2 separate regions of the Homo sapiens genome follow, and region 1 is linked to region 2. Evidence: fine-mapped expression QTL. A gene starts in region 2. The other region holds a variant in brackets. All regions are shown on one strand. Distances are from middle to middle.

Evidence for each region. PIP is the estimated chance that this variant, and not a neighbour inherited with it, causes the effect.
Region 1: its variant is the best candidate, but not a certain one, in a credible set for the expression of EVA1A in fibroblasts (GENCORD, PIP 0.80).

What each region holds. Positions count from the first base shown.
Region 1 is chr2:75,590,951-75,595,344 of GRCh38, reverse strand. No RefSeq gene overlaps it. Among named protein-coding and RNA genes, the nearest start is that of EVA1A, 32 kb to the right of the region's middle. The variant G/A (reference allele first, on the strand shown) is at 1,780.
Region 2 is chr2:75,558,908-75,563,301 of GRCh38, reverse strand. It overlaps EVA1A (eva-1 homolog A, regulator of programmed cell death), which reads left to right and starts at 2,363. Exons shown (of 4, transcript NM_001135032.2): 1 at 2,363-2,622. RefSeq lists a silencer at 2,354-2,413.

The sequences.
Region 1 (4,394 bases), 32 kb before region 2:
TAGCCTGATTGATCTAGGCAGAGATTGTAGGCTTATCCCTCTGAAGCTTTCTCATTCTTTTGTGGCTTTGGGATTAGGATCATGCCTCTTAACCAATTTGGGTTTTTTTTTTTCTACTTCAAAGACTTATTAATGACAAAAGTCTCTCCTTATTAATGCAGGAATTAGCACTCTTTCACCCAGTAAACTTGTCAGGGGCCTGTCAGTATTCTCAGAACAACCAGTAACTGTTGAGAAAATGATGCTATCAGTTGAATGGTAGTGGCTTTTGTTTGCTTATCATGTGCAACTCATAATTATGAATGCCGGGACATAAACTAACAAAGAAAATTCTAGTTAACAGTGTTTAAAATACTTCATAGAGTATTGTCTTTTTAAAGGGCTGTCTTACAGACATGCTTCACAATTTTTCTGAAAAGCCAGTGGTGTGAGATAATCTGTCTGTCAGTGAAATTAGTGTCGTTTTCCTACCCTCAGCAAAGGTGATATTTATTAAAACTGTTTTTTAGAGATTATTTTTCTCTCTTACTTTAGTACAGAAGTCAAGACCCCTGGTAATCAAAGAGAGGAAGCACTGCGTTACCTCCTGAGTCAGCACATAGATGGGGCTGCGTCTATGCAGCTGTGACTTGTCATTGATTGCCATTCTTTTCCTTGGGGGAAGAACATAAACTTTTTTATGGCTGCTTTCTTTCATCTTTTATGCAAAAATAGCCACCAATGCTTCTTGTGTTGGTATCCTGGGTGATGAGTTTTCTTTATTCAGTTTATAGGTAATTATCTCCCTATTAGATCAATCATTTAATTTTATTTCTACATATAGAAGTTTTTACCTTTTGTACAAGTAATATGTGTATACATTCTGTTTATAAATAATTCAAGTACTGCAAATAATGCTGAAATCCCCGTTTGCCACTTCTCATTTTCCTCTCCAGGGTGAATTATATGTGTGTATCCCTTCGAATTTTTACATACATATTTACATGCACATGTGTACTTGTGAAATTATAATATTTTTATGTTTTAATTTTTCACACAAATGGAATTTATTGTATGTACTGTTCTAAAATGGCTTTATTCACTTAACATATCTTAGAGAGTTTTCCATATTGGTATAAATGGAGAAAACTCATTCTGTCTGTTTATTTTCTATAATATGCATGTGCCATATTATTTAATAATTACCCTACTCACAGACACTAAGGTTATTTCTAAGATTTTATTATTACAATAATGTGGCCACAAATGTTTTTATACACATGACTCTGTACAGATGTGAATGTTTCTCTAGAATTGATACAGAGCAATGAAATGGCTTTGTCAAAGAATCTAAAACTTTAATTTTAGCAGATATTTCCCAATCTCCCTCCAAATTGTCTGAATCATTATGTAACAACTATTTCCCCTTATTTTTGCCATCATTTTATATTAAGAAACATTTAACTCAAAGGTAAAAATATTTCATTTCAATTTTCATTTCTTCAATTAGTAGAGAGGTTAAACTGTTTCTATATTTTTATTTCTATTAATTATTTCTTTAGAAAATTTGTCTATTTTCGTATTGCATTGTTTGTCTCCTCCTCATTCTCCTCCTCTGTCTCCTTCTTCTTAACTTAAATAACAGACTTTTATTTCTCACTGTTCTGGAGGCTGGGATGTTTGAGATTAGAGTGCCAGCATGGCTGGGTTCTGATGAGGGCTGTCTTCCTGATTTGCAGATGGCTGTCCTCTAACTGTATTCTAACATGGTGGGGACAGCTTTTTCCTTTTGACTTATTG[G/A]AATTCTTTTTATATCCTGCATACTATTCCTTTCATATTCATTGCAAATATTTTCTCTGAATATGTCTCCTTTAACTTTGTCTTGTGGTTGTTTTTTCTGCTCAGCTTATTACCTCTGTTTTCCATTAGTCAGATTCATCTATTCATTGAGTTTGAGAGTGCCTCTTTTTAATGGTGCTAGCTTTTCTCACATGTTTAATGATTTGTGATTGCAAGTGATTCTTTGTATTTGTTTTTTCCTGTTAATTGCTATTCATTCATTATGTACTCACAAGTGTACATAGGATAGGGTGAGAGGCAGGAGAGAGAGGCATTCCGTGATGCTGCACTTATACTTTGTGTGTGTAGTGAGCCTAGGGAAGGGCCAATGACTGCCAGCTATGTTACTTTGATAGTTAGACTGCTTCTCTGTCCAAATGCACATACTCATTGCTCATCTCTAAGGGCAAACAGCTCTGTTGCCTAATTGCCTTGGGCAACTGACAACCCTGCAAGTATGAGAAGGAAGGGTGGGAAGGTGGGAAGTTGGAAGGAGAGGAAGATTCCATATACCTGGTGGCTCTTTCTGCGGGACCTTAAATAATAAGCCTGTTAGTGATTCCAGTATACCGTCGTCCTGTGAGTAACTGCTCCTTCCTGGTAGGGTATGCCCGGTAGAGTTATCTCACCTTTTTTATTTGCCCTCTCCTGTGTGCATGTTGCTTGTGGTTTTCTTCTTCAGTCTAATTCTATACACGTTCTATGTTTTAGTGATTTTTTTTCCCGATTTTTGGTCCACTGAGGGTACATCTTATTTTCCAGAGTAAGTTATCCTTTCTAAGAATTTGGGGTGAAGAAAGAGGTTGCCACATGTGATCTGTCAGCCATCTTGAACCAGAAGCTCAGAAGTCATCCTACCTGATTTATATTGCACTATTCAGTCAGATACTTCTGAAATATTAAACACTTCTCTTGGACAAGAAAGAACAGAAGGAGACTGGAGGGTTTGCCTCATTAATGTAAATATTCTCATCCAGGCCTAGTTCTCATCAGTCCATCTAGGCTGGACTGATTATTTAATTAAGCTAAAGAGGGTAAATAAAAGGAGGAAAACCAGACAAAGTAAAAAAAAATCCATCTTCAAATTTATCTCTGACTGTATTTTCTACTGGAATTTCCCTAAAGCCCCCATCCTGGCTTGCTTATAAGCTGCTTTTATCTATTTTGTGTCTGAATATAATTTGCATATTCATGTCTGAGTCAATTTTCAAGTTGCAACACTTCCACGGCCTTCATTCACTGATGATTCGTCTGGGAACAAAACTGTCCTTTAACAAACCTGGCTGTTAAGTGGAAACAAACAAGTCATAAATCACACAGAGCAGGTTTGGCTTGTGGCTTATGGCTCAGGGGCAGTATTTTTGTAAGTTGCTCATGCCCATGACAAATATGTGCCCTTGCAACTTCTCCTTGACCAGACCTTGCTGCATGGGGGTAGGGTAAATCCTGCTCGTGGCTATGGGCCTTGGCGAGCAGTCCTTAATTTCTCCTTTGTCTTTTACTTACTATGAGGGGGTCCAAGGCCTCTATTTTCTGATCCTGCCTATGAGAATGGGAAAGGATCAAAAATATTTACTGTATATCTCAGTCAATGTGTTATTTGATCCTGGGGTAATTTCTAGTGGGCTCCCCTTCTCCCTGATAATATATACAATACCTTGGAAAAACTTAGTTTACATGCCACAGGTGAGCCACACCAATTAAAAGAACTGGCATCTACATTTATATCAACAAAGAATATGAGCGACCCCAACTTCCATTGATCTTCTATTCACGAATTTTCTCCTGTGAATGTTTATATCTGTTTTCTCACATGGTTAGATAAGGTAAGCAAGACTGAATTTTTTTCAGGACTATACTTTCATCAGTGCTAGCTTAAGGAATACTTCAATAACTTGAAGCAGAAAATAGAAGTTTATTTTATTTAATGTAGTCAGAGGAGGTTTACTTAACTTTGTTCTCAGATCAATGATTTTGGAAAATGAATATGCCCTGAGAGACCCCATCCATCAGGCTCCCAATGACTCAAAGAATTGTATATCTTTAATGATGTGAAAAAACATCTGAACACATTAACCTTGAAATTATGAGGGAAAAGTAAAGAAGATCTGTAATTTTTTTTTCAGCACCGAGATGGAATAGAAAGACCTGTAATTTATTGAATGAAGTTGAGTATTTAGATTCAAACTGGGCATATTTTTCTTTATCAAACTGCCCTGAGTTCATTGGAAATACAGATTTGTGGAAATTGTAGATATTTCCTGGAAATGAAGTCATTGTAAAAGAGCATCCCAGAATTTTTAAAAAGATGTATATGAATCATTCTTTAATTTTGTGTAGCTGCTTTTGGAATAGAAACCTCAGGATATTCAGAACTGCTAAACATTAGCTTGAGCAGCGTGGATGTTTGCATTATAAGTACTTCGTATGCACTCTACTATAAAGACACATGCACACATACGTTTATTGCAGCACTGTTCACAATAGCAAAGAGTTGGAACCAACCCATATGCCCATCAATGGTAGACTGGATAAAGAAAATGTGGCACACATACAACATGGAATACTATGCAGCC
Region 2 (4,394 bases):
AACCCCAAGAGGGGCTCTCAGGCTAGCAACGGATGCACTTCTGTCCTGCTGCACAACCAGAAGTAGATAATCTAGATGGCAGCTCTAGTCTCTCCATACCTGTGATTCCTGAAATCTGTTGAAGTGTAGGGGGTTCAACAGTATCTGCTTCATTTTAATAAAATGAGGCAATGTTTATAAGTGAGACACAGCCCAGTGACTGGCACGTACTAAGTACCAACACATATTAGCAGTTCTTAGTAGTGGTAGTATTTTTAAATCCAAAGGTAGATTGGGTCAGAGTGCTTCCAGGTGTCCTTTCTCCAGCCTGGGGGCAAATAAGTAGGCTCAAGATTAGGGCCCATCTATAGAAAGTCTGTGCTCACCTATTGGCACCTGTGCCCTATCTATTTATTTCTTTACTAATTAGTTCATTCAACACACATTTACTGAGCACTGATTGTATGTGTGCTCCTGTACTCGGCACACAAACCTCTGATCTCTGATATTCGTACAGGGCTGTGCCCTTGGCTAACACACGTAGTATTACATCAGGAAACCCCGCTTCTCATCACAGCCTCTCCATATGCCTGCTGGAAAGCTGGAGAGTTAGGGGGAGCTCTGATGATGGCCCTTGCATGCCAGAGTGTGGAATTTGGAGTCAGGCAAGTATGTATTCTTTTTACAGATAAGGAAACAGAGGTCGGAGAGGGGAGTACTTTCTCAAGTTCAGAGAGTAATTTAGTGCTGTCTGAGGCTAGAACCTTGTTCCCTGATTAGTTTAGGAAACAAGGGCCCTTTCTACCAGACCAGTTGCCTCTGCATGAGAGTGGAATAACCTGTCTTTACGTTTTCATCTACAGATAGGTGTTGTTTTCCTTTTGAAGAGCAGCATTTCAAGGTAAAATGAAGTAGCTCTTGAGTAAGTCTGAAACAGTGGCTCTCATCTCTGGCTGTATGAGATCATCTTGAGAGCATCTGAAAAAAAACTGATGTGGGAGCTCCACCCCAGACAATTACAGAAATATTTGTGAGGGTGGAGCTGGGGCCACCTATTGGTTTTTAAAGCTCCCCAGGTGTTTCTAATAGACACCCAGGGCTCCATAGTCTAATATACAATCAGTCCAATATACAGCATAATATACAGTCAGTGGTCTAGCAGCCAGTGCTTCCAAATTCTAATGCACATTTGAATCATCTAGGGATCTTGTTAAGCTGCAGATACTAATCCAGTGGTTCAAGTGCGGCCCGAGGGTTTTCATTTCCATAAAGCTTCCATGTGGTGTTAGTACTGCCAGTCTCTGGACCACACTTGGAGTAGCAGCTCCAGAAGGCACTCTGGGATTCTAGTCATCCACGTGGTCACTGGCTACTCTAGCCAGAGGCCTGGGAGTCACCTCTCTCCTTCATCCTCTCCTCATCTTCTCCCTTTCAAGCCCTTGGTCATCAGATCTTGTCAGTTCCATCACACTGCTTCTAGGAGCTCCTCTCCTTTCCTAACGGACTGGCACAATATTTTCCTCCCTGTTCCCCACCATCACTCACTGCCCTGGCTGTGCTCTTTGCTAGACCGCCTCCTGAAGGCTTTCTTATTCCGTCTTCCCTCTGTCCAAGCTTTTATTTTGATTCTGTAGAAGGCTCTTTCACTCCGTGACCCATCTCTTAAGAGACCACCGCAACCCGGGACCTGTTCTCTCCCTGCACTCTTCCCCTATGACGATTGTATAGGAACAGGGTGTCCCTCTAGTTGTTTCTGCGTTTCCAGCCCCCAGCTGAGCGCCCATCACTCTCAATAAAATACTTGTTGATTTTAACAAACAAAACCCCAACCCTGAAAGAGAAAGGCCAAACAGAGGCCTCAGCTGCATTTCTTCCGATAAAAATGAACATTCCTTCGAGATTATGCATCAGGCTTTAACTTCCCACTCAGAAAAAAAAAAAAAAAAAAGTTGATCAAATTTAACAAAGTAAGTGGTTATTTCCTGTCTGAGTTGAGTAGCTGAATACAGGCTCAAAGCAGGCGACGGGACAGGAATGAGAGGATGGATGCTGGCAGGGGCTTGGAGGTCTGCTTTCAAATCTGGGCTCGTCCCAGCAGGGGGAAAGCCTGGAGGACCGGGATAGGTTGGGGACTGCCGATGGGGAACCTCCCCGGTCCTGCGGACAGTCGGCAGCGCGGGGAGGCAGGCAGGAGTTGGGAGCGTGAACTAACTTGGCGCGGAGGGAGGTGCCGCACGCCGCAGCCGTTCAGGTTTCGCGTCTTGCGGGCGCCCACATGGGCCGCTGGCTTGCAGAAGGGGGCGGGGGAGAGGGAGGGCAGGTCCGGAGCCAAGCGGGTGGAGGAGGGGGGAGATCGAAGGAAATGAGACAACCTTTTCCTCCCACTGACTCGGGCTCCTGCAGCTTCTGCGGGGCTTGGCGCCGCCGTCCGTGAGCACCCAGGCCGGGACCCCACATCCCCAGGCCAGCCCTGACCCCGGCGGCCCCTCCGCCGGGATTCCTTTCCGAGGTACTGGTGCCGGCCCAAGACCCGGGCAGCGCTTTGTCGTGTCCGCCCCTCAGTGATCAGCTCCGGGTCCCCCTGCTCGGCCCCGCGCGCCCCAAGCGCAGTCCCCGGAAGTGCGCGCCGGGGCCCCAGCAAAGGTAAGAGGTGCCCGAGAGCGCTCCCTGAACTCTGGGGGCGCCCGGCATCCCCAGCGGGCTCCGGCTTCTCCGAAGCGCCCTCTTTTCGGAAACACCCAGAGCACTTCTGACCTGAAGCAGCTGCTTTGTTCCCAAGTCCCTGCCCAGGTGTTGTAGGCTGGGTCCCACAGGGAACTCTGCTTCCCAGCGCTTTCTTTTTTGCCTCCTCTTCCTCCCACTTTCCTGTTTCTTCTCTCGCCCCCCCTGCTTCTTTCTGGATAGAACAACTCTCAACTCCCTGCCTCTGCAGCCCAGCTTCGGAAAGCAGGTCGTTCCCAAATCTAGCGCTTCTCTCCTGTGCCTCTGGGAGCTGGGCTGAGCCTGACTGGCTTCTATCCCAAGCCTGCGCGGGGCGGACCTGCCAGAAATGTACGTGCTGCACCGTGGACTATTTACCTGGTTTGTTTCGGAGGCAGCCAACTCGCCGCGCGCATTTGGCGACCCCCAGGACCCCGAAAGCCGAGTGCATCAGGGAGTGAAAGGCTGTTGGCGCCCCCTAAAGTCCCAGTGGGACGCTTTGCTTTTGGAGAGGGGCGCGCAGACAGTCCACGCTGCTCTATCTGGGAGGTCTGCGTGGGGGTCCCCACCCCTACTATTGAGGGGTAAGGGGAGGTGTTGGCACGCAGTACGGAGCGCGTTGGGACATGGAGGAAATGAGGATGTCCTGGAAGGAGAGGAGTGCCAACCACATCGTGCTGGCTTGCCATGTTGTTCTTATTAACTGCCTGAGTTCTCATAACAAGCCTGTGTGTAGGGACTCTTACCCCTATTTTACAAACGGGCAAAATGAGATGGGGCCACACAGCTAGCTAGGAAAGGGCCCAGCCAGGATTTGGGTCCTAGCTGGTCTATACCACACATACACTTCAAGTCCAGCCCTACAGAAGATTCTTCTTTTTAGTCTGAGCAAGAACCGTCCCCCCAACTCCCCCGCCCCCCCCCCACCTCCTTTCTCATAGTACAAGGGACCAGGCTTTTTCCGTTTTGACCTAATATACCTTGATTATATTCAAACCCAAACTACTTATTATCTACTGTCCTCTGAGTTCAGCGGCAAGCACTGAGGTTTCACCTTTGAATCTTATTAATTCATCCCCTTCTTGTCATCCAGTCTGTCACGAAATGTGTAATACTGTTCAGAAGGCTGGCTTGAATCTCCTTTCCATAAAGGCAGTCAAGCGCAGTGGCTAAGAGCCCGGGCCCTGGAGTGAGACCACCAGCTTGAATCCTGGCTGGGGCCTTCCTGTACCTTTCTGTAGCTGGATTTCCTCATCTGTAAAGCAGGGATGCTAGGGCTTAAAGTAATGGTTTTCAACGGAATTTTGATTTTACTTCCCAAGTGACATCCAGCAATGTCTGGAGACATATTTGGCTGTCATCATGTAAGTAGAAGAGGATCTTATTCATCTGGTGGGTAGAGGCCAGGGATGCTGCCACATCCTGTATTGCACAAGACATCTCCCCCCTCCCCCACTCCGCTTCCAAGATTTAAGAATTATCTAGCCTAAAATGTTAATAGTGCTGAGGTTGAGAAGCCCAGGTTTAATGTTTCACTTCATGAAGAGTGCCATTATTTCCAGCTCTCATCCTTTTATCTGCTCTAGTTTGGCTGATTATACCAGTCTCTGTCCCAGTCTTTCCCTCCATTCCAGTGCCAGAATTCTGTTGCCAAATCCACAGCAGGTCATGCGGCTATATTGCCTTAGCACCCTTGTTGGTCCCCTATTGCTAGC